Homo sapiens: one gene and its partners. The protein of the gene in region 2 purifies or fractionates together with the protein of the main gene of each other region. This does not show direct contact. Each region holds a gene or a part of one and is shown on either strand. Other genes may lie near its edges.

The links.
Region 1: the proteins of RELB (region 2) and SMARCC2 purify together in Homo sapiens (affinity purification with mass spectrometry; 2 studies listed by BioGRID and IntAct, with this or other methods). This does not show direct contact.
Region 3: the proteins of RELB (region 2) and USP11 purify together in Homo sapiens (affinity purification with mass spectrometry, with the first as the bait; 2 studies listed by BioGRID). This does not show direct contact.
Region 4: the proteins of RELB (region 2) and NFKBIE purify together in Homo sapiens (affinity purification with mass spectrometry; 4 studies listed by BioGRID and IntAct, with this or other methods). This does not show direct contact.
Region 5: the proteins of RELB (region 2) and KPNA1 purify together in Homo sapiens (affinity purification with mass spectrometry; 2 studies listed by BioGRID and IntAct, with this or other methods). This does not show direct contact.
Region 6: the proteins of RELB (region 2) and KPNA2 purify together in Homo sapiens (affinity purification with mass spectrometry; 2 studies listed by BioGRID and IntAct, with this or other methods). This does not show direct contact.
Region 7: the proteins of RELB (region 2) and SMARCC1 purify together in Homo sapiens (affinity purification with mass spectrometry; 2 studies listed by BioGRID and IntAct, with this or other methods). This does not show direct contact.

What each region holds. Positions count from the first base shown.
Region 1 is NC_000012.12:56,182,312-56,187,053, forward strand, and holds part of SMARCC2 (SWI/SNF complex subunit SMARCC2), read right to left. Parts: intron 3,930-4,742; coding exon 3,844-3,929; intron 2,801-3,843; coding exon 2,719-2,800; intron 2,626-2,718; coding exon 2,533-2,625; intron 1,934-2,532; coding exon 1,864-1,933; intron 1,620-1,863; coding exon 1,550-1,619; intron 1-1,549. UniProt on the Homo sapiens protein: Involved in transcriptional activation and repression of select genes by chromatin remodeling (alteration of DNA-nucleosome topology).
Region 2 is NC_000019.10:45,010,749-45,015,490, reverse strand, and holds part of RELB (transcription factor RelB), read right to left. Parts: intron 3,556-4,742; coding exon 3,215-3,555; intron 1-3,214.
Region 3 is NC_000023.11:47,245,369-47,249,520, reverse strand, and holds the end of USP11 (ubiquitin carboxyl-terminal hydrolase 11), read right to left. Parts: intron 4,152-4,152; coding exon 4,039-4,151; intron 2,450-4,038; coding exon 2,300-2,449; intron 2,218-2,299; coding exon 2,102-2,217; intron 1,911-2,101; coding exon 1,822-1,910; intron 1,729-1,821; coding exon 1,591-1,728; 3' UTR 1,193-1,590; downstream 1-1,192.
Region 4 is NC_000006.12:44,257,212-44,260,896, reverse strand, and holds the end of NFKBIE (NF-kappa-B inhibitor epsilon), read left to right. Parts: intron 1-357; coding exon 358-446; intron 447-614; coding exon 615-854; intron 855-1,612; coding exon 1,613-1,678; 3' UTR 1,679-2,731; downstream 2,732-3,685. Other genes in the region: SLC35B2 (adenosine 3'-phospho 5'-phosphosulfate transporter 1), read left to right, coding at 3,487-3,497. UniProt on the Homo sapiens protein: Sequesters NF-kappa-B transcription factor complexes in the cytoplasm, thereby inhibiting their activity. Sequestered complexes include NFKB1-RELA (p50-p65) and NFKB1-REL (p50-c-Rel) complexes.
Region 5 is NC_000003.12:122,448,336-122,453,077, reverse strand, and holds part of KPNA1 (importin subunit alpha-5), read left to right. Parts: intron 1-1,013; coding exon 1,014-1,102; intron 1,103-1,444; coding exon 1,445-1,544; intron 1,545-3,340; coding exon 3,341-3,504; intron 3,505-4,742. UniProt on the Homo sapiens protein: Functions in nuclear protein import as an adapter protein for nuclear receptor KPNB1. Binds specifically and directly to substrates containing either a simple or bipartite NLS motif.
Region 6 is NC_000017.11:68,037,942-68,042,683, forward strand, and holds part of KPNA2 (importin subunit alpha-1), read left to right. Parts: intron 1-2,736; coding exon 2,737-2,825; intron 2,826-4,143; coding exon 4,144-4,412; intron 4,413-4,742.
Region 7 is NC_000003.12:47,584,769-47,587,331, reverse strand, and holds the end of SMARCC1 (SWI/SNF complex subunit SMARCC1), read left to right. Parts: 3' UTR 1-2,063; downstream 2,064-2,563. UniProt on the Homo sapiens protein: Involved in transcriptional activation and repression of select genes by chromatin remodeling (alteration of DNA-nucleosome topology).

The DNA of each region.
Region 1 (4,742 bases), on a different chromosome or scaffold from region 2:
TCCACAGTAATTTTTTTTTTTTTTTGATACAGAGTCTTGCTCTTGCTCTGTCACCCAGGTTGGAGTGCAGTGGCGCGATCTCGGCTCACTGCAACCTCCGCCTCCCGGGTTCAAGCGATTCTCCTGCCTCAGCCTCCCGAGTAGCTGGGATTACAGGTGCCTGCCACTGCGCCCGGCTAATTTTTATATTTTTAGTACAGACGGGGTTTCACCATCTTGGCCAGGCTGGTCTCAAGCTCCTGACCTCGTGATCCACCCACCTCGGCCTCTCAAAGTGCTGGGATTACAGGCATGAGACACCGCGTCCAGCTGGGGTTTTTGTTTTTGTTAAGACAGGGTCTCACTTTGCTGCCTAGGCTGGTCTTGAACTTCCAGCCTTTAGTGATCCTCCTGCCTTGGCTTCCCAAAGTGCTAGTATTATAGGAGTGAGCTACTGTGCCTGGTCCACAATTTTCTTTTTACATAATCATAACCATACTAGATGATGTTTTTACATAATCATAACCATACTAGATGATATTTTACATGCTTTTTTTTTTTGAGACAGGGTCTTGCTCTATTGCCCAGGTTGAAGTGCAGTGGTGCAATCATGGCACAATGCAGACTCAACCTCCTGGGCTCAAGCAATCCTCCCACCTCAGCCCCCCAAGTAGCTAGGACTACAGGTGCATGCCACCATGCCCAGCTAATTTCTGTATTTTTTTTTTTTGTAAAGACAGGGTTTCACCATGTTGCCTAGGCTGGTCTCAAACTCCTGGGCTCAAGCAATCTGCCCACCTCAGCCTCCCCAAGTGCTGGGATTATAGGCATTAGCCACTGCACCCAGCCTACGTGCTATTTTTTGTTTTGTTTTGTTTTGTTGAGACAGAGTCTCGCTCTGTCGCCCAGGCTAGAGTGCAGTGGTGTGATCTTGGCTCACTGCAACCTCTGCTGCCCCGGTTCAAGCGATTATCCTGCTTCTCAGCCTCCTAAGTAGCTAAAACTACAGGCGTGTGCCACCACGCCCTGCTAATTTTTTTTTTTTTTTTGTATTTTTAGTAGAGACGGGGTTTCAGCATGTTGGCCAGGCTGGTCTCGAACTCCTAACCTCAGGTGATCCGCCTGCCTTGGCCTCCCAAAGTGCTGGGACTACAGGCGTGAGCCACCATGCCAGGCCTACATGCTACTTTTTGCAATTATTAATAATATTCACTTATAAATTATCCATGTTATATCACTTTAAAGACTGCATAATAGTCCACTGAGTAGATATACAAATTTACTGAAACATTTTCCTACTGTTAGACATTTAGATTGTTTCTAACATTTACTTATCGAAAATGATGCTGGGATAATCAATTCACACATAAAGCCTCAATCCTTTTAGCCCAAGGCTTGTCCACTAAGTCCAAACCTCCCCCAAGACAGAGGTTCACTTACTAGGTGAGAGGAAAACAAATTAAGTGATCTAAAAATAACTCTGAAAGAGTGGCCTCTTGCTCTGCTAGATGTCCTAGGGCTTCTGGGTCTGGCTCTTATACTTAAACCTGCCCCAGGAACCCATCCTCACCTGTCAGGATAGTAGCCCCAGTGCAGAAGAACCTGCTTATCCCTCTTCATGACTGGTCGTACCCATTCCTCTGGGGATAGAGGAAGAGAAGGGAGAGATATAAGCTAAAGGGGGACACAAAAAAAATACTGTACAAAAGCCCTAACTAATGCACTCTCCTGTTGTAGCAGGGGACTTGGTAATAGGAACTTAAGGTGGTAAGAGGATTCAAGATTGAAAGAAGAGGAGGAGCCCAGGTACTGAATGGTGATCTTAGTCCTCTGCCTCCTAGTCCAAACCATCCACTCAAGTGGACAGGAAAACCCAGGTCTCACCTTCTTCTAGATTCCCCGGGACAGGATACACAACATGGGAGGCATTGTTCTTATCCTCAGTGACTGTTCCCTGGATGGTAAAAGGAGAAGCGGGTAAATTATGGTCCCCTCTGAATTACTCAAGGTTTAGCCACAGAGCTGCCTTCCTAACCATATTTTGCTTATAATAGTATTAAAGTTAGTTTGTATTCTCTAAGCACACACCAGCTAAGTGGCAGAGGGAAACAGCTGGGATTGTGCTAATAATGGAGAAAAGTCAAAGAATTAAAAATTGCCAAAAATAATCTTCTGAACAGATAATCTATACATGGGAAATTTAAAGTCCACTGTACATCCTTATCAATGACATCTATTCATTACTATAAAGTTCCAAAGAGCAGGAATTTCATTTATCTGAGATCACGCAATCTCTAGCTCAGTAGAAGTGGATACTATTTTTCCCCAGGCCAACATAGTCTCTAGAACAGTAATGCAAACCTGTCAGGACTGAAAAATGGGAGAAGCAGACAGAAAAAGACAGACTCAAGGCTTTAACTCAAGTCTTTTTCCAAGTAGACAGAGCCACCTCTGAAGCAGAAAACATGGTAATTCAGGGCTGCTGCTTGGTATAGAAAACACTGGGAAAACAGTCATGGAGTTTCTGAAACCTCTCCTCACCAGACCATTTACCTGGTGTCTCTTGATAATGTCCTTTAATTTCCCTAGTAGTTTGGGCTCAATTTCTGGGCACAGAAAAATGTTAGGTCGAGACAGGCAATTATTCTGTGGAGAGAAGAAATAGAATGAGATTATAGGAAAGGGGTGTTTTAGATTCTCACTGAGGGAAGGGAGATAAATAGGGTATATGCCTATTACCTGCACCAAGGACTTCTCAATGGTCATAAACATTTCCACATTGCGGTCCATGCGTGATGGATTCTGGAAATCGTAACGCCGCCTTGTGAAGAGGCAATAATCTAGTGAGTGGTATAGCTCAGGTCTGCAGATGAGGTGAGGGCACGTGACTTTTTTGTTTGTTTTTTGAGATGGAGTCTTGCTCTGTCACCTAGGCTGGAGTGCAGTGGCGCGATCCCGGCTCACTGCAACCTCTGCCTCCCAGGTTCAAGCAATTCTCCTGTCTCAGCCTCCCCAGTAGCTGGGACTATAGGCACACACCACCTCACGTGGCTAATTTTTGTATTTTTAGTAAGTAGAGACGAGGTTTCACCATATTGGTCAAACTGGTCTTGAACTCCTGACCTCAGGTGATCCACCTGCCTCGGCCTCCCAAAGTGCTGGGATTACAGGCATGAGCCACCACACCCGGCCTTTTTTTTTTTCTTGAGAGGGAGTCCCGCTCTGTTGCCCAGGCTGGAGTGCACTGGCGCGATCTTGGCCAGCTGCAACCTCTGCCTCCTATGTGCAAGCCATTCTCCTGCCTCAGCCTCCCAAGTAGCTGAGACTACAGGTGCCCGCCACCATGCCCGGCTAATTTTTGTATTTTAGTAGAGATGGGGTTTTGCCAAGTTGGCCAGGCTGGTCTCAAACTCCTGACCTCAAATGATCCACCCACCTCGGCCTCCCAAAGTGCTGGGATTACAGGTGTGAGCCACTGCGCCCAGCCATGACTTCTTAATATGGGAAATTAGGAGGCAAGCTTGCTCACAGCTATTGCCAAACATCACCTGGGATCTGAGGTTCACTGATCTCAACTCCATGAATCACTCTCTGTGCTTACTTCAAAGGGACAAAAAAAGGTTTGAGATGCCAACCTAAGAATCCCTTTTCCTCTACAAAACACACAGTGATACTCACACACTCACTCTTGGAGACTGTTTTGGCTCTGACTCCCAACCATCTTCCTGACGTAGTAAGTCAGGTCTACTGACCCAGCAAAATAAAGAGACTCACAAGAATTTCTACCCCAGAAAGATCCCAGGGAATCAAAAAGGGGGATTTCCTCTAAACTAAATATAAGAAGAATAGAGAGAATCATCTCACCATCCCTGGTCACTCTTGAATTTGTAGGCAGCTGCAAGAATGTGGCACAAGGAGCCTCCCGCTTTGAAATCTAGGAAACATTTGATCTACAAAATCAAGATACGGAAAAAGCATGTCAAGGTTCCACTGTAAATTCTCTCATCACTTAATAATCTAATAATCCTTTCACAAAATCCCATGCTGAATTGATCTCCCTTTTTTTTTTTTTTTTTTGAGATGGAGTTTCACTCTTGTTGCCCAGGCTGGAGTGCAATGGCGCGATCTTGGCTCACTGCAACCTCTGCCTCCCAGGTTCAAGCAATTCTCCTGTCTCAGCCTCCTGAGTAGCTGGCATTACAGGCATGAGCCACCACACCCGGCTAATTTTGTATTTTTAGTAGAGACGGGGTTTCTCCATGTTGGTCAGGCTGGTCTCCAACTCCAGACCTCAGGTGATCTGCCCGCCTCGGCCTCCCAAAGTGCTGAGATTACAGGCGTGAGCCACCACGCCCGGCCTCAAAGCTGAAATTCTTTAACCCTTGTGCCATTGCATCATGTGGCCTGGAAGAGGGGAGTGAAAGAAACCAACACACAGAAAGCACCACCTTGTGCTAACACTTTACTGGATTACCTCAGGTACCATTAAGGAAACTCTACAAGGTAGGTTTACTAATCCCATCTAGAGATGAAGGAACCAAGACTCATGAATGTTGCCCAAGATCACAGAGCCATCCAATGGCAAAGCCAGGATTTGAACACAAGCCTGCACAAATCCAAATCTCAAGTCCCCTTTTAACCATGCCATGAGAGACCTGTGGACTGATCCCAGGTACTCTGAAATAATTTGTTGCACAAAATATTACTAAGACAAAAAGAATGGTAAACTGGAGACTAGGCCAAGCCAATAATGCCCTGATCAG
Region 2 (4,742 bases):
GGTGCTGGGATCACAGGCATGAGCCACCATGCCTGGCCCATTAGGCTTTAGAATAAGTCCGACCTGGCACCAAATCCAGGCTCTACCACTGGCCATCTACAAGATAAACCTCTCGGGTCTTACTGTCTTTATGTGTAAAATAGGTATGCAAAGTACCTGGTACATGGAAGCACTCAGTAAATGGCGGTAATTACAATAGTAAACTTGCTGTGTGCCCTGTGCAGGTAACTGCCCCTCTTTTAACCTCAGTTTCCTACTCTGAAGATGGGGATAAACATCCTGAATCCAAGCCAGGCATGCTGGCTCATGCCTGTAATCCCAGCACTTTGGGAGGCCGAGGCAGGTGGATTACCTGAGGGCAGGAGTTTGACATCAGCCTGGCCAATGTGGTGAAACCCTGTCTCTACTAAAAATACAAAAATTAGCTGGGCATGGTGGTGCACACCTGTAATCCCAGCTACTTGGGAGGCTAAGACAGGAGAATCGCTTGAACCCAGGAGGCGGAAGTTGCAGTGAGCTGAGATCACACCACTGCACTCCAGCCTGGGCAACAGAGCAAGACTCCGTCTCAAAAAAAAAAAAAAAAATCCTGAATCCAGATTTGGAGACAGGTCATTCCCTATGGTTAGGCATTTACCATTCTAAATCTTGGAAATCAAAACCAACTCTGGGGTCCGAGCACGGTGGCTCACACCTGTAATCCCAGCACTTTGGGAGGCTGAGGCAGACAGATCACTTGGGGTCAGAAGTTCAAGACCAGCCTGGCCAACATGGTGAAACCCCATCTCTACTAAAAGTACAAAATATTAGCCGGACATCATGGCGCGTGCCTGTAATCCCAGCTACTTGGGAGGCTGAGGCAGGAGAATCGCTTGAACCCAGGAGGTGGAGGTTGCTGTGAGCTGAGATTGCACCATTGCACTCCAGCCTGGGTGACAGAGCAAGATTCCATCAAAAAAAAAACCAAAAAACAAAAAAAAACTCTGAGCCAGAATAACTGCCTGGGAAGACTTAGAAATTAGGCCGGTGCGGTGGCTCACACATGTAATTCCAACACTTTGGGAGGCCAAAGTGGGAGGATTGCTTGAGGCCAGAAGTTCAAGACCAGCCTGGACAACATGGTGAGATGCCAACTCTTCAAAAAAATACAAAAATTAGCCAGGCACGGTGGCATGCACCTGTAGTCCCAGCAACTCAGGAGGCTGAGGTGGGAGGGTCTCTTGAGCCTGGGAGGTGGAGGCTGCAGTGAGCCGTGCTTGTGCCACTTTACTCCAGCCTCTGTGACAGAGAGAGACCCTGTCTCCAAAAAAAAAAAAAAAAAAGCCTTAGAAATTAGAAGTTGGGGAATACAGTTAAACATGGGATGATACATCTCAGTATATCATCCCATAGATAACTTACCAATTCATTACAAAGGGAAAGTTGTATCTTTATCATGGAGAGACCTGATAGTCACCACATTAGCTGGAGGATCCAACTCAGCATCACCAATATTGGGAATAACGACATCCCACGTCCCTTGATGTGAGACACTGAGAAGGCCACAGCATCACTGCTGGAGTGTTTCTGCCAAAAATGCATAATCTGACCTAATCTGGAAACAGCCAACAAACCCAGAATGTGGGATATTCTTTTTTTCTTTTTCTTTTTCTTTTTTTTAGAAGGAGTTTTGCTCTTGTCGCTCAGGCCGGAGAGCAATGGCACGATCTTGGCTCACCGCAGCCTCTGCCTCCCGGATTCAAGTGATTCTTCTGCCTCAGCCTCCCGAGTAGCTGGGATTACAGGCATGCACCACCACGCCGCACTAATTTTGTATTTTCAGTAGACATGGGGTTTCTCCATGTTGGTCAGGGTGGTCTCGAACTCCCGACCTCAGGTGATCCGCCTGCCTCGGCCTCCCAAAGTGCTAGGATTACAGGCATGAGCCACCACGACCAGCTTCAGAATGTGGGACATTCTACAAAACATCCGTCCTGTTCTGCACAAATGTTCAACTCACGAAACACAAAGACAGATTGAAGAACAGATCCAGATTAACAGACACCAAAGAGGCCAGGCACAGTGGCTCACACCTGCAATCCCAGCACTCTGGAAGGCCAAGGCATGCGGATCACTTGAGGTCAGGGGTTTGAGACCAGCCTGGCCAACATGGCAAAACCCCTTCTCTACTAAGAAATACAAAAATTAGCCAGGCGTGGTGGTGGACCTGTAATCCCAGCTACTCGGGAGGCTGAGGCAGGAGAATCGCTTGAACCCGGGAGGTGGAGGTTGCAGTGAGGCGAGATCACACCACTGCACTCCAGCCTGGGCAACAGACCAAGACTCCGTCTCAAAAAAATAAAACTTACCTGTACCTTATTAATACATTAATACCCTGCCAAAAGTAATCACCTTTGCTTTTTTTACTTCCAGTGTTATATATATTTGTTTGTTTTTTAATGGAGGCAGGGTATTGCTCTGTTGCTCAGGCTGGAGTGCAGTGGTGCGATCTTGGCTCACTGTAGCCTTGACCTCCTAGGCTCAAGCGATCCTCCCACCTCAGCCCTACCATGTAGCTAGGACTACAGCCATGTGCCACCACACCTGGCTAATTTTTGTATTTTTTGTAGAGATGGGGTTTTGCCGTCTTGCCCAGGCTCATCTAGAACTCCTGAGCTCGAGTGATCCGCTCGCCTCGACCTCCCAAAGTGCTAGAATTACAAGCCTGAGCCACCGCACCACGATCTGCCTTCTTTTTTTTTTTTCTTTTTTTTTGAGACAAGGTCTCACTCTGTTACCCAGACTGCTATGCAATGGTGCAATCTCAGCTCACAGCAGCCTGCACCTCCCTGGGCTCAGCTAATCCTCCCACCTCGGCCTCCTAAATAGCTGGGATTGTGCCACCACACTCGGCTAATTTGTGTACTTTTAGTACAGATGGGGTTTCACCATGTTGGCCAGGCTGGTCTCGAACTCCTGACATCAAGGGATCCGCCCGCCTCAGACTCCCAAAGTACTGGGATTACAGGCGCGAGTCACCGTGCCCAGCCAAATGTCCGACCCCTCCTTTTTTCTGAACCTTTTGGATTCCAGGCCAGGTGATAGTATAATTAATATCTGGTCCAACAATAACAACAACAGCCACCATCAAATAAACGTATAAATGCATGTGGATGGCTCCGGGGTGCAGGGGAAGCCCCAGTCCCACCCGCCCGGGGCCGCTCGCCGGGCCCACCTCGATGGCGGGCAGCGTCTTGCTGGCCTCGGTGCTGCTCTCCCCAAGGATGCTGCCGGCCGAGCGGCCCTCGCACTCGTAGCGGAAGCGCATGCCGCGCTGCTTGGGCTGCTCCGTGATGACCAGGTGCGGCTGCGGGCCCGGGCCCGGCGCTGGGGACACTAGTCGGCCCAGGGGGCAGCCCCAAGGCGGCGGCGTGGCTGGGGGCGCCACAGGGCCCAGGGTGACCGTGCTCAGGGACGCAGCCCCGCGAGACACCAGGCGTGGCAGCCCCTCGCCCGGGCCCGGCTGTCCCCCGTCCAGGCCGAAGCCGTTCTCCTTGATGTACTCGTCGATGATCTCTGCGGGAGAAGAAAAAACGGGTGGTGACGCCCATTCTTTAAAAAATTAAAAAAAAAAAAAAAGGCTTGATTACCCCCGAGACGTTTTCCATCCCATTTATCTCTCTCTCTCTCTCTCTCTCTCTCTCTCTCTCTCTCACACACACACACACACACACACACACACACACACACACACAGAGTCAGGGAGGCCAGGTGCGGTGGCTCACGCCTGTAATCCCAACACCTTGGGAGGCCAAGGTGGGTGAATCAATTGAGGTCAGGAGTTCGAGACCAGCCTGGCCAACATAGTGAAACCCCGTCTCTACAAAAATTAGCCCGAATGGTCTCCCACGTCTGTAATCCCAGCTACTCAGGAGGCTGAGGCAGGAGAACAGCTTGAACCCAGGAGGCGGACACTGCAGTAAGTCAAGATCGTGACACTGCACGCCAGCCTGGGCGACAGAGTGAGACTCCGTCTCTCAATAAATAATAGGCTGGGCGCGGTGGCTCATGCCTGTAATCCCAGCATTTCGGGAGGCCGAGGCGGGCGGATCATGAGGTCAGGAGATCGAGACCATCCTGGCTAACACAGTGAAACCCTGTCTCTACTAAAAATACAAAAAATTAGCCAGGCATGGTGGCACGTGCCTGTAGTCCCAGCAACTCAGGAGGCTGAGGCAGGAGAATCGCTTGAAACCGTCAGGCGGAGGTTGCAGTGAGCCGAGATTGCGTCACTGCACTCCATCCTGCGCAACAGAGCAAGACTCCATCTCAAAAAATAATAATAATAAATAAATAAATAGGCTGGGCATGGTGGCTCACGCCTGTAATCCCAGCACTTTGGGAGGCCGAGGCAGGCGGATCACCTGAGGTCAGGAGTTTGAGACCTGCCTGGCGAACATGGTGAAACCCCATCTCCACTAAAAATATAAAAATTGGGCATGGTGATGTGTGCCTGCAGTTCCAGCTACTCGGGAGGCAGAGGCAGGAGAATCACTTAAACCTGGGAGGTGGAGGTTGCAGTGAGCCAAGATCATGCCATTGCACTCCAGCCTGGGCAACAAGAGCGAAATTCCATCTCTAAATAAATAGATAAATAAATACAAAAATGAGCCAGGTATGTTGGTGCATGCCTGTACTCCCAGCTACTCGGGAGGCTGAGGCAGGAGAATTGCTTGAACCTGGGAGGTGGAGGTTGCAGTGAG
Region 3 (4,152 bases), on a different chromosome or scaffold from region 2:
ATTTCTGTTCTTACTTTTGCTAAGTCAGTTTGAGCTGGGCTCCTCACAGCAACTGCCTTGACTTCTGCCTGTGTCAGCAGAGTGACTGGGAGGTTTGCGGGTGGCGATGCTGGGGCTGAGTGACCCTCACAGTGGGTCTGCCCAGACCCAGTGCAAAGGCAGAAGGCTGGGGGGAGTGTTGAGGCCCTGGCCATGAGAATGGCCTCTCAGCTGCCACCGATCAGGATTCCCCTCACCCATCAGTGTGAAGGGTTGGATGGCTTATTTATGTCCAAATTCCTGCGGCAGGTGTTCAGTGTCGTCTGGGGTGAGGTTGGAGGGAACCTGCCTGGTGTGGGAGCTGGGGTCATGATGGGAGAGGGGGCTGACTACAGGGGCCACACACAGACAGCACATTTGTCCTGGCAGGTTGGCTGGTCTGCCAAATGCATGTACCATCTCCAAAGGAGGTCTCAGGGGGACAAAATCTTCTCAGAGGACACTACTGGGGGTCTGTGAGGTGGTCTGGGGAATAGCATCCTTTTTTTGAGATGGGGTCTTGCTCTGTGGCCCAGACTGGAGTGCAGTGGCACGATCATAGATCACTGCAACCTCAACATCCAGGGCCCAAGTGATCCTCCTGCCTTGGCCTCCCAAAGTGTTGAGATAACAGGTGGCACCTGGCCTGAGAGGAGTATTTTTATGTCCCCAAACCACAAATTTGCCCACATGGATGCATCCGTCCCACGTGCTCCATTTCCACATTGCCTGTAGGGCAGCTCATGTCTGCAGATTGAGTAGCAGTCCTGGGTCCAGACAAGCCAAGCACCCACTCCAGGGACCGACTCGGGTAGCACATGAGGTATACTGACCTCCTGACAAGCCCTGAGCAATTCTGTGACCTCTGTACCTCAGTATCCCCATCCGAAACTGGAGATGACAACTCTTGCATGAGATTGTTGTGAGGATTACGTATCAATATTTGGAAAATATTTTGGAAAAAACTGGGCATGCCATTGGTGCTTGGAATCGTGCCTGGCACACAGAGGGTGCTTTCAAAGCACTTAGAACAGCAGTACCCAGCCCACAGCTGGTGCTCACTAACCACTCAGAGCTGCACCCATCACACATCTGGCCTTTGATAAGAACACAGAACACAGGCACAAAACTGGTGCTTAGTTAAGTCCATGGAGGAAAAAACCACACTGCTGAGTGGGGAGCAGACTGGTGCTTTATATATACACACACACAGCAGAAGGTACAGGGCCTCAATAAGAAAATACACTCTGTGTTCAGGTGAACCCCCATCACCACCCACGCAGAACACTCTGGGCTGAGGAGAGGGAAGGGCACGACCATAAATAAAGACTAGAAGGGAGGGTCACTGCTGGAAGGGCAAACACAGGCGGGGCGCGCACTGCTAGGAGGAGACACGACCTGTTCTTTCCCGGGAGAGAGCGATGCAGCGGCACAGGAGAACAGTAGCCACGACTAAGCCTGCAATGCCTGGCGGGGGCACCTAACACGAATAAGAGAAGCGGGGCGGACACGAGAAGCGAGATTGCAGAGAGGGCTTTTTTTTTTTTTTTTCTGTGGCAGGACCCAGGGCTCTCAATTAACATCCATGAACTCAGAGCTGGGTGGGGAGCTGCAGGCAGGGGAGGCTGGGGCGCCAGATGAGCCGGCCGGGGACAGCAGGCGTCGCGCCACGTCCTGGCGTTGGTAGAAGAGGACATAGGCTGCCTTGGACTGTGGGGAGAGGACAGGAGTCAGTGTGGATTGTGGGGGTGGGGAGGTGGAATCAGAAAGGAAGAAGGGGAGGAGGTAGGATGGAAGTCACACCTCGATCTGATTCTCATTGACAGGGGAGACGCTGTTGTCATCAAAGTAGTGCCACTGGCCGCTGTCCTTGTTGCAGGCAAATGTTGTGTCTGAAAGGGAAGGAGAGTTATCCTCGCCTACCCTTCCTGCCTCTCAGAAGTGTCCAGATTCACTCTTGTCACTCCTCCCACCACGATAACCTCACCACTGGCTCACATCCCTAGTCACTCACTGGGAAGGTCCTGATCGCCCCCCTGCCCAGAACCCCCAGGGCAGGCCCCACCCACAGCCTGGCACATACAGTGTCCATCACGCATGCCCCCATAATGGTTGGAAACCGCGATGAGGTCATATTTGTACAGCTCCGGATTCGACTCATTCTGTGGCTGGATGACAAACTCAGAGAAGTCCAGGTCCCTGTGGGTGGGGAGAGGGTTAATACTGGTACACCCCCTCCTTTCCCTGCCTTCCCCCAGCCATCCTCTCCCTGGCCCCTGACCGGATAGGAAACTCCACGAGGGTGTCCAGCTTCTCTCGGGAGAACTTGGTGTAGGAAAAGCGTTTCAGGTGGATGATGAGAATCTCCGGCAGCATCCACAGGTCCAGCTTCTTGGTTGCCAGCTGGTGCTGCTTGCAGGAAGGGCAGTACCTACAGACAGAGCCCGAGTCAGCAAACGGACTTTTTCTTTTTTTTTTTTTTGAGACAGAGAATCGCTCTGTTGCCCAGGCTGGAGTACAGTGGCGCGATCTCGGATCACTGCAGCCTCCACCTCCTGGGTTCAAGCGATTCTCCTGCCTCAGCCTCCCGAGTAGCTGGAATTACAGGCATGCACCACCATGCCCTGCTAATTTGTGTATTTTTAATAGAGACAGGGTTTCACCATGTTGGCCAGGCTGGCCTTGAATTCCTGACCTCAGGTGATCCACCCGTGTCGGCCTCCCAAGGTACTCGGATGACAGGCATGAGCCACAATGCCCAGCCAAAACAGACTTTTTCTGAGCACCTACTGTGCGCCCTTTGTACTGCCTCTCACGTGCCATGTCTGGCTCACAGAAACACTGCTCTTACTATTAGCCCATCTAGTATTCTAGTTTGCTCTGTTCCTGTTAAAATCCTTTCACTCACTCGTCAAGTGCTTACTATCTTTTGTATATGTGCTCATACTATTTTTTGTATTTTTGTTTGATTTCTGTTCCATGAGATGCTAGTCTTATTTTAGAGCCCACCTCTATCCTTCTAGTTTCCTCTCTTCGTATTTTAGTCATTCATTCACTCCCCAGTATTTATTGATTGCTTGTTTAACCCTTTGGAACTATTTTGTATTTCTGTTCCATTTCTGCTCCACGGACATGCTGCTCTTATTTCTGAGACTAGGGAGTGTGGTTTTGGTTCTCTTTTTGTTTATTCTGCAAGTGTCTACTGAGCATCAACCGAACACTCAACACTATTATAAACAGGTAGAAGCAACACACAGTGAACTTAAGTCTTCACCCTCGAGGAGTTGACTCTAACGAAGATGACAAATAACACAAAAGTGGATACAGGACATCACATCAAGTGGCATCGCTGAGCTAGAAAGTAATGCTTGGCTAGGAAGAAAAGAGCAGAGAGGGGATGGAGAGGGATGGTGGGGAAGGGTGATTTTTAACAGGGTAGTCAGAGGAGGTCTCTCTGATGAGGTCACATTTGATCGGAGACCTGAGCATCGTAAGGAGTGAAGTCCTGTAGATCACTGGGAACAACATTCCTGGAGAAGGAACAGCACAGGCCAAGGCTCTGGGGTAGGAGTCTGCTCAGGAGATTGGTGGCCAGGTTGGCAAGAAGGGTTTGAGTGTGGAGGAGGGAGGAGGAAGGTATACTTAAAGAGCTAAATATAGGCCAGGTGTGGTGGCTCACGCCTGTAATCCCAGCACTTTGGAAGGCCAAGGCGGGTGGATCATCTTTAGTCAGGAGTTCGAGACCAGCCTGGCCAACGTGGCAAAACCTGTTTCTACTAAAAATATAAAAATTAGCCAGGCATGGTAGTGGGTGCCTATAATCCCAGCTACTCAGGAGACTTAGGCAGGAGAACAGCTTGATCCTGGGAGGCAGAGGTTGCACTGAGCCGAGATTGTACCACTGCACTTCAGCCTGGGTTGACAGAGCCAGACTCTGTCTCAAAAAAAAAAAAAAAAAGCTAAATATAGTAGTTCCATCCAATGAAACCCCCACACACAGGCCCCGCTCTGGCCCCTCACCAGGGGTTTTCCTTCTCCAGGGTCTCCACAGTGGTGAAGAGCTCAATGCACTCCTGCAGCCGCACGGGAGCCTTCTTCATCACGTACCCGACGCAGTCATGCTTCACGTAGCCC
Region 4 (3,685 bases), on a different chromosome or scaffold from region 2:
CAGGTTGTGTGTGTGTGTGTGTGTGTGTGTGTGTGTCTGTATGTGTGTGTGTGTGTGTGTGTGTGTGTGTTGTAGTTTGTGTATAGGAGGAGGGTGTTCTTTGGGGGTGTCACTCAGCAGCCTGACCCCTGAAGCATGAAAGTTTCAATAACATGACTCTGAAAAGGTGGAAACTTTGAGTTCCTTTCCCCTTAGACTTTTGAGGGGGTTTTGGGGTTTGCATTTTAACAGTCTTGTGATTAGAGACATTGAGTGGGCTGTGAGTCCCTTGGGGCTGAGTGGTAGGGAGGTCCCAGAAGAGAGGGAGTTGGTGGATGCAGATCAGCAGCCCTCACCCTCACTCTCACCCCATCCCAGGTCTGGCTTGTCTCCACATTGCCACCCTTCAGAAGAACCAACCACTCATGGAATTGCTGCTTCGGAATGGAGCTGACATTGATGTGCAGGTGAGACAGCCAGCAAAGCACTGCCCGGCCCAGGGCCTGCCCCCACCTGACACATCCCCAAGTCCCCTGCCCAGCAGTCAGAAGTGGTGGCATTCACTTCCTTATCCAGAGCCCAGGCCCAGCACACTGCCTCTGAGGGCCTTGGCTGACATCCTTATTCCTCCCCAGGAGGGCACCAGTGGTAAGACAGCGCTGCACCTGGCTGTGGAAACCCAAGAGCGGGGCCTGGTACAGTTCCTGCTCCAGGCTGGTGCCCAGGTAGATGCCCGCATGCTGAACGGGTGCACACCCCTGCACCTGGCAGCTGGCCGGGGTCTCATGGGCATCTCATCCACTCTGTGCAAGGCGGGTGCTGACTCCCTGCTGCGGAATGTGGAGGATGAGACGCCCCAGGACCTGACTGAGGAAGTAAGTGGCATATGCTTTGCTCTCCAGGGCCTTGCACACCCATAGCAGAGAGAGGTTCTGTCATTAGCTGAAAGGGCCAGGGAGCCAGGAGTCCTGGGGTATAACCAGGACTCTGCCACTGACCAACTGTGGGAACTTGAGCCTGTTTCCTTAGTTGGTCCAAGGAGCCAAATTTGGACTCTTACAGGGACCCTGCAGTTAAAGTGAATCAGTGAAGTTGGCCAGATATGAGACCATGGTGTGGTGAGGCCTATAAGAACCCAGAGAGCCATCCCTGAGGGTCTCTGTACTCAGCTTCAGCAAAGGCTTACAAAGCAGGAGTGTAGGCCCAGTTTTTCCTGGTCTTGGACTTTCTTGAGAGGTGAAACTCAGATTTTCTGTACAGTCTTTCCTATTTTTAAATGTTCAGTGTAAAAAAGAAACCTAAATGTTCTGCGAGTACCCAGCAGCCCCCCCACCCCATCCCCCAACAACAACAAACAACTCCAGGTCCATGGGCTGGATCACCTCTAAGGGTCCCTCCTAACTCGGATATTCTGGCATTATCTTAGAAAAGGAAGGCTTGTCTAAGTCCTCAGGGCTCTGCCAAGCCCAGAGGGGCCACTATTTTGAGGATTCGTGTGAAGATTTGTTCCCTGATGGTCTTCAACTGTCATTTGGTGGGGAGGGAGTGGCCCAACAGGTTTCCCTGGGTCCCCTTTCCCAAGTCACCTTTTCCCATGTCCTCTGATCTTGCTTCTCTCCATTCTCCTTCTCAGTCCCTTGTCCTTTTGCCCTTTGATGACCTGAAGATCTCAGGGAAACTGCTGCTGTGTACCGACTGAAGCCAGGCAGGGTCTGGGATCCTCAGGGCTCCACCTCTCCATCTGGAAGCCGGAGCCATAACTGCTGCAGTTTGGGCCCAGGCTATGTGCTCTTCTGGTGCCCTAGGGACTGCTGTGGCCAGAGCCTGGGGCCAGCCAGTACAGTCCTGAGCCGAGGAGGAGGGACTGCAAGTGGAAGAGAGCCAGTCTGGAAGGAAGAGCTTTCCAGGTGGACAGGGCTTCTTGGAAGACCCCCAAAGCCCCAGGTATCCTGGGTGAAGCCTGTTTGCCTCTCTTGAAAATGGCAGGTGCTCTTGTTTTACCCATGTTGGGTCAGCCTGAAACTGCCAACCAGTAGGAAGCATGGACTCTCCTGAGTGAGAAGAGACTGAAATAGGAGCAAGCAGAACCCTGAGAGGTGTCCCATCTTATTGCTGTTGAGGACCCTGAAACACCGTTGTTTAAAGACTTCACACAGAAGGCTCTGAACTGAGCCACTGGGGAAGGGAAGTTTCAGTAACATGACACTAAAATGGCAGAGACGTTAAAAAAAGTTTTTCCCTTCTAGAGCTGTTTTGCGCGCATGCATGTCTGTGTGCATTGGGGCTTTTTAGACAGGCCTGCCCTGTGACTTTGTGGTAGAGGCAGAGAGAAGGAAATTGTCCCCTGAGCACGGTAGGGCCTTGCTGGGTGGGGTCAGAGGCCAGTAGTTCCAGGCCTTTCTCTGTGTCCAGCACAGACCCTTGTCCTTGCTGTGGAAATGATGAGGGATGGAGGGACAAGAGGAAGAATGAGAGGACACACGCCCTGGAGCCCTCACCACTGCCCTGGGGGTTGCCATCTGGAGGAGCCTGGGGATAAGGGTAACCCAGGGAGGCTGGGCACGAGGGAGCTGACTCCACGTTTTTCCCCCCGTTCCTCACCTTCGAGGGCCCTGCTAGGTCACCCCTATGCTGGCATGAAGAGCATGGGGCAATAAACCAGCACAGTCTCTGACCACTTGGAGCGTCTCATCCAGTGAGAGAGACAGCCGTTAAAAGCATAAACATCCAAATAAAGATGCCTTTCCAAGTTGCAGTGGGTGCTATGAAGGGAAAAGAATAGTGGGAAGGAAAAGGATGGAGTCGGTAGAGGGTCATACTTTGGGTGGTCCGGGAACCCTCGCCTGAGGAGTATCATCTCAACTGGGATGTAAGGATGAGTAAAGGGATGGGGGCAGAGCATTAGGGGGAAAGCCTGTGAATTAGAGGAACTGAGAGCAAGCCAGTGGGGCTTCACAGCGGGCGAGTGAGTGGGCGAGGAACGCGGGCGAGGCCATGTAGAGCCTCGAAGATCATGGGAAGTGGGACAGAATTACTACCCAGCCAACAAAGCAAGGAGACACCTTCATCCTGTCAGAAAACGGGGAAACTAACACAGAGGAGCGGCTTGGGATGCAGAGCCTCAATGTCCTGTCCACAAGATGGCAATGGTCACCATGACCTCTGGGACGCTTATGAAGGGCGATGACGAAGCACAGGGGACACGCCGGGCGGGCGCCTCTTCAGGGCTGGGGCTCCCCGCGCCCAGGGGCAGCCCAGGTCCCCGGAACCCAAGCCGCGTCTGCCTCCGGGCCGCGCGGGGGCGCTGTGGTCCGGCGGCGGCCCGGGGCGCTGCGTGGTCGCGGCAGGGGCGGAGGGGGCCGCGGGGAGGGAGGCGGGAAGAGCGCGGCACTTCCGCTGGCCGCTGGCTCGCTGGCCGCTCCTGGAGGCGGCGGCGGGAGCGCAGGGGGCGCGCGGCCCGGGGACTCGCATTCCCCGGTTCCCCCTCCACCCCACGCGGCCTGGACCATGGACGCCAGGTGGGGGCTAGGGCAGCAGCGAGCTCACGTGACCGAGCCCCCGGGCCACGTGACTGCCGCGCCTCAGCACGGGGGCCGGGTGGGGTCCCGGCTGCTCGGCCGTCGGCCAGCATATCGCTGCCCGGAGCCAGCGGGGATGGGAGCTGCGGCTTGGTTTTGTGCTCCTTGGGGAGCTTCGGGCGGAGGGG
Region 5 (4,742 bases), on a different chromosome or scaffold from region 2:
GCTTGAGAGGCTGAGGTGGGAGGGTTCACTTGAGCTCCAGGAGGCTGAGGCTGCAGTGAGCCGATATCACACCACCGCACTCCAGCCTCGGTAACAGAGTGAGACCTATCTCAAAAAAAAAGAAAGTGGCTAGTCTTTGCCACTTTTGTGCAGAAAAGTACAGAAAGCAAGTTTCTTTTTGTTCACTGTTTTCTTATGTAAGCAAGAAAATACTCTCTTTCTGTCTCTTTTTTTCTTTCTGTCTTTCTCTCTTTCTGTCTCTCCATCTTTCCGTCTTTCTTTCTCTCCGTCTCTCCATCTCTCCTTCTCTCCGTCTCTCCTTCCCTCTGTCTCTCCTTCCCTCCGTCTCTCCTTCCCTCCTTCCCTCCGTCTCTCCGTCTCTCCCTCCCTCCCTCCTTCCCTCCTTCTCTTGCTTCCTCCCTCCCTCCCTCCCTCCCTCTCTCCTCCCTCCCTCCTTTCCCTCCCTCCCTTCCTTCCTTCCTTCCTTCCTTCCTTCCTTCCTTCCCTCCTTCCCTCCCTCCCTCCCTCCCTCCTTCCCTCCTTCCCTCCTTCCCTCCTTCCCTCCTTCCCTCCTTCCGTCTGTCCCTGTCACCCAGGCTGGAGTGCATTGGCTCAATCTCGGCTCACTGCAACCTTGGCCTGTCAGGTTCAAGCAGTTCTCATGCCTCAGCCTCTCAAGCAGCTGGGATTACAGGCGCCTGCCACCACACCCGGCTAATTTTGTATTTTTAGTAGAGATGGAGTTTCACTGTGTTGCACTCCATACTGGGTGACAGAGCGAGATTCTGTATCAAAAAACAAAAACAAACAAAAATGAATTAGTTCTTTCCTTTAATAAACCGAATACCTTCTGTTTGTTGTACACTTTAGGATATTATTTATCTTCCTCCCCCAATCCTACAACTGTTTCATTTGACTCCCTGATGAACGTGTTATTGTGATATACTGGCATCTGAAAGAATTATGAGGGAATTAAACTATGTAACCTTTATTAATGAATGATTCTTTCACAGGCAGTCTGGGCTCTTGGCAACATTGCTGGAGATAGTACCATGTGCAGGGACTATGTCTTAGACTGCAATATCCTTCCCCCTCTTTTGCAGTAAGTTTCTTCTTCCTTCTTCCTTTTTTTTTCTTTTTGAGAATAAAAATGTAAGAGATTCCTCAGAAAGCATTACATGTTTGGAAATCATTTTGGATTTTCTAGTGTTATTTTTAATTCCAGATATTTTCTTGTTTAGATCATTTCCTCAAGCACCCTATCTTTTTCCATGCCAAAATTCTGAATTCTGAATTACTTGCATCAGAATTAATGAAGTTTTAATGTTCTGGAGAAAAGCTATCTGAAGACATCTCTTTATCAAAAGTATTATTATTTAGTATTTATGTCATCAGATAATCACTGTCTGTTACATAGTTTACCATTGTACCATCGTGCTTTTAGGTTATTTTCAAAGCAAAACCGCCTGACCATGACCCGGAATGCAGTATGGGCTTTGTCTAATCTCTGTAGAGGGAAAAGTCCACCTCCAGAATTTGCAAAGGTAAGGACTATGCTTTTGGGACATTGGCAGAAAAAATACAATTAAAAGAGTATTGCAACCAATGGTAAGGTGAACAGGAAGATAATTTTTGTTAAAATTTAAAATGTTAGAATTTTATCTGTTTTTGGAGAAACAGGGTTGTTGTTGTTTTTGTTGGTTCTCTTTATTATTTAAAAAGCAAATTTAGAGCATAGCTTGAAGGTGCACATTTACGATGGGACTGCAAATAAAGCATAGCATGAAGGAAGAATTTGTAAAGCTTATTGAAATTAGGCTTCATACAATTAGTATACTGTTTAGGAGACTATCCTTTCAGTTCTCTTAAAACAGTGGTTCTCAAAGTGTGGTCTGTGAGTTCTCTGGGAGTCCATGAGATTCTTTTTTTTTTTCCAATAGGTTTTTGGGGAACAGGTGGTGTTTAGGTACATGAGTTACTTGTTTAGTGGTGATTTCTGAGATTTTGGTGCACCCAACACCCAAGCAGTGTACGCTGTACCCAGTGTGTAGTCCTTTATCTCTCACCCACCTCCGACCCTTTCTCCCTGAGTCCCCAAAGTACATTGTATCATTCTTACGCTTTTGCGTCCTCATAGCTTAGCTCCCACTTATGAATGAGAACATCTGATGTTTGGTTTTCCAGTCCTGAGTGACTTTATCTACTTGTTGATTGATGGGCATTTGGGCTGGTTCCATGTGTTTGCAATTGTGAATTGTGCTGCTATAAACCTGCGTATACAAGTATCTTTTTCTTATAATGACCTCTTTTCCTCTGGGTAGATACCCAGGAATGGGACTGGTGCATCAAATGGTAGATATACTTTTAGTTCTTTAAGGAATCTCCACACTGTTTTCCATAGTGGTTATACTGGTTTACATTCCCAGCAACAGTGTAAAAGTGTTCCCTTTTCACCACATTCATGCCAACATCTATTTTTTGTTTTTTGGTTTTTTGAGACGGAGTTTTGCTCTTGTTGCCCAGGCTGAAGTGCAGTGGCGCGGTCTCGGCACACTGCAACCTCTGCCTCCTAGGTTCAAGTGATTCTCCTGCCTCAGCCTCCCGAGTAGCTGGGATTACAGGCGCATACCACCACACCCGGCTAATTTTTGTATTTTTAGTAGAGACGGGGTTTCACCATGTTGGCCAGGTTGGTCTTGAACTCCAGACCTCAGGTGATCCACCCACCTCAGCCTCCCAAAGTGCTGGGATTACAGGCGTGAGCCACCACGCCCAGCTGCATTTTTTAATATGTTTGTTGGCTATTTGTATATCTTCTTTTGAGAATTGTCTGTTCATGTCCTTAGCCCACTTTTTGATGGGATTTTTTTTTCTTGCTGATTTGAATTTCTTGCAGATTCTGGATATTAAAATAAATGGGTATTTTTGTAGTTGTTTTTAATTTGGAATCATTTTTCACTGAACAAAACCTTAGCATTTTTGGTCTTTAACAAAGTATCTAAAATACAGAATTTCCTAGTTTTCACATTTGTGAAAGTTCCTTTACCTGTTTAGTCCACAAAGAATGTGTTTTGATAGGGAGTCTTACTCCAAGAATTGATGTATATAAAACTTTGCTCTCTGAAATTATTTTCCTTGGGCTTTGACTACAGATTAGTGCAAGATCACTGACAACATTGCCAAAGATGGAAATGCCACTTAGGTACTTGCTGCTTCATCTTTAGAAGTGTAAATCACCCTAGAAGTCACCAAGTACATGCCTGGTTGCCTTCTTGAGTATCTCACCTCACTTCTGGCTTTTAGTCTATTGAATTTCATAATCATCATTTTCCTTTTACAGGTTTCTCCATGTCTGAATGTGCTTTCCTGGTTGCTGTTTGTCAGTGACACTGATGTACTGGCTGATGCCTGCTGGGCCCTCTCATATCTATCAGATGGACCCAATGATAAAATTCAAGCGGTCATCGATGCGGGAGTATGTAGGAGACTTGTGGAACTGCTGATGTAAGATATCTTTTAGAAAGTGTGTCCACTTTCTCTCCCTTGGTACTAGTTTTCTAGCTGCTAATACTTAAATATTAATGGATTGTACATGATAATTGATTTATTGTGCTTTGGGCTACTGTTTTTGTTACTTGTTTATTTTGATGTCAGATCTGTTTGTCTTGTTTTATTGAGGCTTATAGAGAACCTCTTAGTCCTCTGCTGTTAGCAGGCCTTTAGCAGAAACATTGGGAAAACTCTGATATGTGTAGTTCCAGGCTCATACTGGATGGCCTGAGATCAACCACCGGACATCAGAAGGCATACTGCCACTAAAATAGTCATTCCTTATCTGTCTGTCTCATTTAGAGCTTATTTTAGACAAGTATCAGAAATTCAATCTTATTTTGCTTTATCATCTCCGTGATGCTTTTGATAATGGAGTGGAAGATTTACTCGTGACATAAATAATTTGAGACTGTATTAATCAAATTTTTAGATACTACAGAAGAAAAAAATGAAAGTGATAACATAATGGAGAAATGGTACAGTTACAAGGTATGGGAGATTTAAAGTACAAAGTAGATGCAAAGAGACATTGTCGCAAACATGACATTTGGAATATATTAGATAGTTATAATGTATTAATACAAAATAGAAAACTCTGGGATTATAGCAGGCTACAGACTGGATGCAGATCAGTAATGTAGTGCTAATGTGAATTAATGGCAGTATGATGCTGCAGGAGTCTGAAGTACATCATTCAAAATCTGGGAAGTAATCCTTTGTATTCTTTAGTCACTAGACTACTATATATTTTAGCCATTTCTTTTTTTTTTTTCTTTTTTAAAAATTATACTTTAAGTCCTAGGGTAAATGTACACAACATGCAGGTTTGTTACATAGGTATACATGTGCCATGTTGATTTGCTGCACCAATTAACTCGTCATTTACATTAGGTATTTCTCTTAATGCTATCCCTCCCCCTGCCCCCAACTCCACGACAGGCCCCAGTGTGTGATGTTCCCCGCCCTGTGTCCAAGTGTTCTCATTGTTCAATTCCCACCTGTGAGTGAGAACATGCAGTGTTTGGTTTTCTGTCCTTGTGATAGTTTACTCAGAATGATCGTTTCCAGCTTCATCCACGTCCCTGCAAAGGATATGAACTCATCCTTTTTTATGGCTGCATAGTATTCCGTGGTGTATATGTACCACATTTTCTTAATCCAGTCTATCACTGATGGACATTTGGGTTGGT
Region 6 (4,742 bases), on a different chromosome or scaffold from region 2:
GTGCGCATCACCACGCTTGGCTAGTTTTTGTATTTTTTTGTTTTTGTTTCTTTGAGACAGAGTTTTGCTCTGTCGCCCAGGCTAGCGTGCAGTGGTGCGATCTCCGCTCACTGCAAGCTCCATCTCCCGGGTTCACGCCATTCTCCTGCCTCAGCCTCCTAAGTAGCTGGGACTACAGGCGCCCGCACCCTGTCTGGCTAATTTTTTGTATTTTTAGTAGAGACGGTGTTTCAACATGTTAGCCAGGATGGTCTCGATCTCCTGACCTCGTGATCCACCCGCCTCAGCCTCCCAAAGTGCTGGGATTACAGGCGTGAGCCACTGCCCGGCCTGTTTTTGTATTTTTAGTAGAGGCGGGGTTTCACCATGTTGGCCAGGCTAGTCTTGAACTCATGACCTCGTGATATGCCTGCCTTGGTCTCCAGAAGTGCTGGGATTACAAGCGTGAGCCACCAGGCCCTTCCCGTTTTTGGTTTATTTCTGCCTTTTTTGGTATTCTCTATGTTTTTGTATTTGTCACCAGCTTTGTTCAGGACTTTCCTTCTGAAATATTTACAGTAGCCTCCTAATTTATCATATCCTTCTTTATGCCATATACTATTTTCCTGAAATTTTTCCTGAAGTACTGCTTTAGACCTGTGTTTTCGCTCCTTAAAATCCATACTCCAAATTGCTTGAACCTGGGAGGTGGAGGTTGCAGTGAGCCAAGATCATGCCATTGCACTCCAGCCTGTGCAACAAGAGTGAAACTCCGTCTCAAGGAAAAAAATAAAAATAAAATAAATCCATACTCCAGCTGGGCATGGTGGTTCATGCCTGTAATTCCAACACTTTGGGAAGCTGAAATGGGAGGATCACTGGAGGCCAGGAGTTTGAGCCCAGCCTAGGCAACATAGGAAGACCTCGTCTCTATAAAAAGTAAAGTTAGCTGGGTGTGGTGGCGCCGGCCTTTAGTCCTAGGTATTCAGGGGGCTGAGACAGAAGAATCACTTGAGCCCGGGATTTTGAGGCTGCAGTGAGCTGTGATTGCACCACTGCACCCCATGCTGGGTGACAGTGAGACCCTGTCTCTAAGAAATCCCTACTCTATGAAGGCCTTCCATAAAGTAGACTTAACTTAGATTTTCAAATTTATCTTTCATCTGGGCCCTTTCCTACATGTTTTTCTCACAATATGCTTCCTTTTTTTTTTGTTTTGAGACAAAACCTTGGTTTGTTGCCCAGGCTGGAGTGCAGTGGTACGATCTTGGCTGACTGCAGCCTCCGTCTCCTGGGTTCAAGTGACTCTCCTGCCTCAGCCTCCCAAGTAGCTGGGATCACAGGGGATCACCACGATGTCTAGCTAATTTTTGCATTTTTAGTAGACACGGGGATTCACCGTGTTTCCCAGTCTGGTCTCGAACTCCTGACCTCAGGTGATCCACCCGCCTCGGCCTCCCAAAGTGCTGGGATTACAGGCGCGAGCCACTTCGCCCAGCCAAACATAAACCATTTATATTTGCAGCAACACTTAACCGTGGAAATATGTAGATTATAAAATTAGATATGAAAATCCTCGGCCGGGTGTGGTGGCTCACACCTGTAATCCCATTACTTTGGGAGGCCGAGGCAGGTGGATCACCTGAGGTCGGGAGTTTGAGACCAGCCTGACCAACATGGAGAAACTCCATCTCTACTAAAAATACAAAATTAGCTGGGCATCGTGGCGCATGCCTGTAATCCCAGCTACTCAGGAGGCTGTGGCAGGAGAATCGCTTGAACCCGGGAGGTGGAGGCGGTGGTGAGCCGAGATCACGCCATTGCACTCCAGCCTGGGCAAGAAGAGCAAAACTCTGTCTCCAAAAAAAAAAGTCGGGCATGGTAGCTCATGCCTGTAATTCCAGCACTTTGGGAGGCTGAGGCAGGTGGATCACCTGAGGTTGGCAGTTCGAGACCAGCCTGACCAACATGGAGAAACCCCGTCTCTACTAAAAATACAAAAAAAAAAAATTAGCCAGGCATGGTGGCGCATGCCTATAATCTCAGGTACTTGGGAGGCTGAGGCAGGAGAATCGCTTGAACCCAGGAGGCGGAGGTGGTGGTGAGCCAAGATCATGCCACTGCACTCCAGCCTGGGGATTGAGTGAAACTCCGTCTCAAAAAAAAAAAGAAAAGAAAATCCTCAGAACGTTGCCTATGACTTCATGTCTTTCTCCCTCAAAGTATATCTGAATGCAAGTGATTGAGACTAACGTAGAAATAATCTTCAGTCTGCTCTGATTCTTGATTTTTGAGACAAGGTCTTGTATGGCGACAGGCAAACACCACCATGCCTGGATATTTTTTTTTTTTTTTTTTTTTTGTTGGGAGGTCTCACTGTGTTGCTCAGGCTGGTCTCACCTGAGCTCAAGCCATCCTCCCTCCTGAGCCTCCCAAAGTGCTAGGCTTACAGGTGTGAGCCACCATGCCTGTCCTTCTCGTTCATTTTTTAAAATTGTTCAAAGCTGCCTTTTTTAGCGACAAAACACTTGGATACTCCATAACTTGAGACTCCAGTGAGTCCATGACAACAAGTTTGGAAACTGTTCTACATATAAAATAATGAATATTTAACAGGCAAAATTAAATGTAGGGCTAAATATTTAGTAGCTGGCTATAAGCCTAACGATGTTTACACTTGCCTTCACAAGTAAGTGTGGATTTTATTGTTTGTATTTAATCTTAATGATAATGTGCAAACTTTCACTTTTCTTCTAGGGCACTGTAAATTGGTCTGTTGATGACATTGTCAAAGGCATAAATAGCAGCAATGTGGAAAATCAGCTCCAAGCTACTCAAGCTGCCAGGTAAGTCTTGTCTGCGATAGCATGGGTAGCCTAAGAAATTTGTGTTTTTAGATTTTTTTTTGGGGGGTGGGGCAGGAAGGGACAGACAGATAGTACAAGGAAAGATTAGGCCAGCCAGCCATAAGCCAAATAGTATTTTTTATTTATTAATTTTTTTGAGAGGGGAGGCCTTGCTATTTTGCCCAGGCTGGCCTGGAATGCCTGGGTTCAAGCAGTCCTCTGACCTCAGCCTCCTGAAGTGCTGGGATCACAGGTGTGTGCCATTGCACCTGCCCATAAAGTTTTTACCAAAGTAATGTTTCAAGTCACTGGCAGGGGAAGGAAGAAATAAATAGTAAGTGGGATTGAGACATGCATTTAGAATGATAGATCCATTTAGGAGATAAGTATAATTTGACCTTTACCTCCCACTATACGTGGATATTTATGATATAATAGAAAGGATTAATAAGTTCTATAGCTTGACAGTGTGCAGAAGAAAAATTTCAATGGTAAATTATCATTAAAAAGTTCTAGGCTGGGTGCTGTGGCTCATTCCTGTAATCCCAGCACTTTGGGAGGCCAAGGGGTCGGTTACTTGAGCCCAGGAGTTTGAGACCAGCCTGGGCAACATGGTGAGAGCCAGTTTCTACAAAAGAAATTATTAGCTGGGTGTGGTGGCACATGCCTGTAATCTCACGTGTTTGGGAGGCTCAGGCACAATAATCACTTGAACCCAGCAGGCGGAGGTTGCAGTGAGCTGAGATCTTGCCACTGCATTCCAGCATGGCGACAGAGCAAGACTCTGTCTCAAAAAATAAATAAATAAAATAACTTGGGTGTGGCGGTGCACACTTGTCGTCCCAGCTACTAAGGAGGCTGAGGTGGGAGGATCACTTGAGCCCAGGAGGTCGAGGCTGCAGTGAGCTGTGATCGTGGCACTGCACTCTAGCCTGAGTGGAGTGAGATCCTATTTCAAAAAAACAAAATGTGCTTAACCACAACTATCAGAACAAATTCAGTGAGAGTATAACCCTGTCAGAATGTGAAAAGTTTTTTTAAAAAGTGACAAGATCTGGAGTAGATTTCTGCAGGGATGGAAAGGAGGGTAATCTACATTAATTTCTGGAAAAATGGTAGTTAATTATACCGCATACATAGCACCATACAAGTAATCTGTTCAGCTTCTCTTAGGTTCCAGAATGTCTCAGCATTTAGTGATTTACTTAAAAGGTTGTCTGAAGTTCTAAACTCTTGAATTGCATTTTATATTGGTTTTTACACAAACTCCTTTTGTTAATCACTGTCAACTTTTATTTCTCTTTTTGTTCCCCTTTAGGAAACTACTTTCCAGAGAAAAACAGCCCCCCATAGACAACATAATCCGGGCTGGTTTGATTCCGAAATTTGTGTCCTTCTTGGGCAGAACTGATTGTAGTCCCATTCAGTTTGAATCTGCTTGGGCACTCACTAACATTGCTTCTGGGACATCAGAACAAACCAAGGCTGTGGTAGATGGAGGTGCCATCCCAGCATTCATTTCTCTGTTGGCATCTCCCCATGCTCACATCAGTGAACAAGCTGTCTGGGCTCTAGGAAACATTGCAGGTACTTGGACTTGAAGTTCTTTTGACTGAATGTATCTAATCGTAATTAGTTGGAAGAAAGGCCTTGTTATAAGTAATAGTGACTTTGTCAAGTTTTGAGCTTGCTTTCAAGCCCTTATTAGGAATGAAAGTGTCGTCTTTACAAAGGCAGCAGAGGGCCATCTAAGTAAGTTTGGGAGTTTTTGCTGGTGCATTCAGTCACTGAAAATTGATGGTGTTGGACAAGGTAATAAAATTAATCTTGCCTCGGCCGGGCATGGTGGCTCACGCCTGTAATCCCAGCACTTTGGGAGGCAGAGGCGGGTGGATCATGAGGTCAGGAGATTGAGAC
Region 7 (2,563 bases), on a different chromosome or scaffold from region 2:
AGTCTAGGGTAATTACCCCCAATGAGTCTAGCCTACTATTCACTGCTTTGTGTGCATTTTTTTCTCCCTCTTTAAAAAACCCTTTAAAAGAAAAAAAAAAGTAGATAGTGCTAAATATTTTAGCTCATGAAACTTGGTTAGGATGGCTGGGGGTACAAGTCCCCAAACTACCTCTTGTTACAGTAGCCAGGGAGTGGAATTTCGTCAACCGGTACTTTTAAGGTTAGGATGGGACGGGAAAAGTGAAGCAGGATATTAGCTCCTTATACCTTCTCCCTTCCATTTCTGAGATCTCACATTCCATCTATCACAGGGTTTTCAAAGAGATGCTGAGGGTAACAAGGAACTCACTTGGCAGTCAGAGCATCATGCTTTGAGGTTTGGGGTGCTCAGGCTGGGAGGGTAGAATGCCATTCCAGAGGACAAGCCACAAAAATGCCTTAATTTGAGCTCGTATTTACCCCTGCTGATAAGTGACTTGAGAGTTCCCGGTTTTTTCCTCTTGTCCTTCCCTCCCTTCTGTCCTTCCATGTGTGGGGAAAGGGTGTTTTTGGTAGAGCTTGGTTTCCAAAGCGCCTGGCTTTCTCACTTCACATTCTCAAGTGGCAGTTTCATTATTTAGAATGCAAGGTGGACATCTTTTGGATATCTTTTTCTATATATTTTCTAAAGCTTTACATATGAGAGGGTATAGGGAGGTGTTTATAAAACACTTGAGAACTTTTTTCCTTAATATCAGAAAGCAAAAAAATAAAACCACAATTGAGATTTGCCTTTCAAACCCTCAGGTTTGCCTCTAACCAGGTGTCCCTGGTCACCATCAGAGTACTGGAATACGGGAACCGAGGAGACCTTGGTCCTTTTGTTTTTGTTCTGGACTCTTGGGAGTGGAAATGAGAATGAGTTTATTCCTACTGGAGCTTAGTTCCAATGCATTTGGCTCCAGAAAGACCCCAGTGCCTTTTGACAATGGCCAGGGTTTTACCTACTTCCTGCCAGTCTTTCCCAAAGGAAACTCATTCCAAATACTTCTTTTTTCCCCTGGAGTCCGAGAAGGAAAATGGAATTCTGGTTCATACTGTGGTCCCTTGTAACCTCAGGTCTTTAATGTGATCACTTTCAAATTTAAAAGATCCAGGTGGAAATATTTTTACTATAGTAATAATTCTACAAAATACCTGAATTCTTAACACTGTTATATTTCAGTATAAGTGGTGGCTTTTTCTTTTCATGTCTTTGATCTGGTTTTATTCCTGTAATTCAGCCACCTGATTTTGTGAGGGGGGGGAATAATATGTGGTTTTTGTACAAACATGTTTCTCAGTGTGTTGTTATTTTGGAAAAAATGAGGGGAGGGAGTTTGGCAAGAATGGAGAAAATGAATGAAGAAGGCCTAATCTCTCTCTTTTTCAGTGAATAAATGGAACACCATTTCTGGATTCTAGTCCCATTCTCTGCATTCATACACCAGTTTCTTCATATATCCTATGAAGAACCTAAACATTTGGCCCCACCTGGTCTTGGTTTGATCAGCAGTTAAAATTCTGTGACTCGGGCTTCCTTCCCGACTGCCCACCTTCATGATGTGTAAGGAACATACATTTTGAGGGTACCTCACCCACTGTTCATTTGCATGGTCAAAGTGAAAATGAGTGGAAGTTCTCCAAAAATGATGGCCAACATCCTGGCACCTCCAGGTGTGAGAAATAGCTTTGCTTGGTGAATGGGATAATGTTTGTCAGGATGCAGTTTAGACAGTCCCAAGTTGGAGGCAGGCCTTGAGGGCAGAAGATTCTGTGAACCTTGGGGGACAGCTTTTGGGTACTCACAGATATAAACCCTGTGCAGAAAAAAAGAAGTGATTGTTTTCAGGATGCTTATAAATCGAGTGAAGCAAAAGAAGAGGATTCTGTGTCTGCCATGAGATGAACGCCCTGCTCTTCACGAAGGTGTGCCTCTAATAAAGAGAGCCAAAGCCAGCTGGGTCTCACCAGATTCCTATACTTTCTCAAGGATGTTGGGGGAGGTTAATCCTTTATCGAAACTAAAGACTGGTTTATAAACTTGTGTGTGAATTATTTTTAGAATATTGGAGGACATGCAAGATCAACCAGTCTTACATAGGTTCCCTGGGTCCTTACCATGGAGTAATTCCCCCACATTCAATTAAGAATAGTTTAGGCTGGGTGCAGTGGCTCACGCCTGTAATCCCAGCACTTGCATTTTGGGAGGCCGAGGTGGGCTGATACCTGAGGTCAGGAGTTTAAGACCAGCCTGGCCAACATGGTGAAACCCTGTCTCTAGTAAAAACAAAAAATTAGCCAGGCATGGTGGCACGCACCTGTAATCCCAGCTGCTCAGGAGGCAGAAGTTGCAGTGAGCTGAGATCACGCCACTGCACTCCAGCCTGGGTGATAGCGAGACTCCATCTCAAAAAATTAAGTTTATTTTTTTAGAGGTGGGGTTTTGCTCTGTCACCCAGGCTAGAGTACAGTGGCACGATCATAACTCACTGCAGCCTCAACCTCCTGGACTCTAGTGATCTTCCCACCTTAGCCTCCCA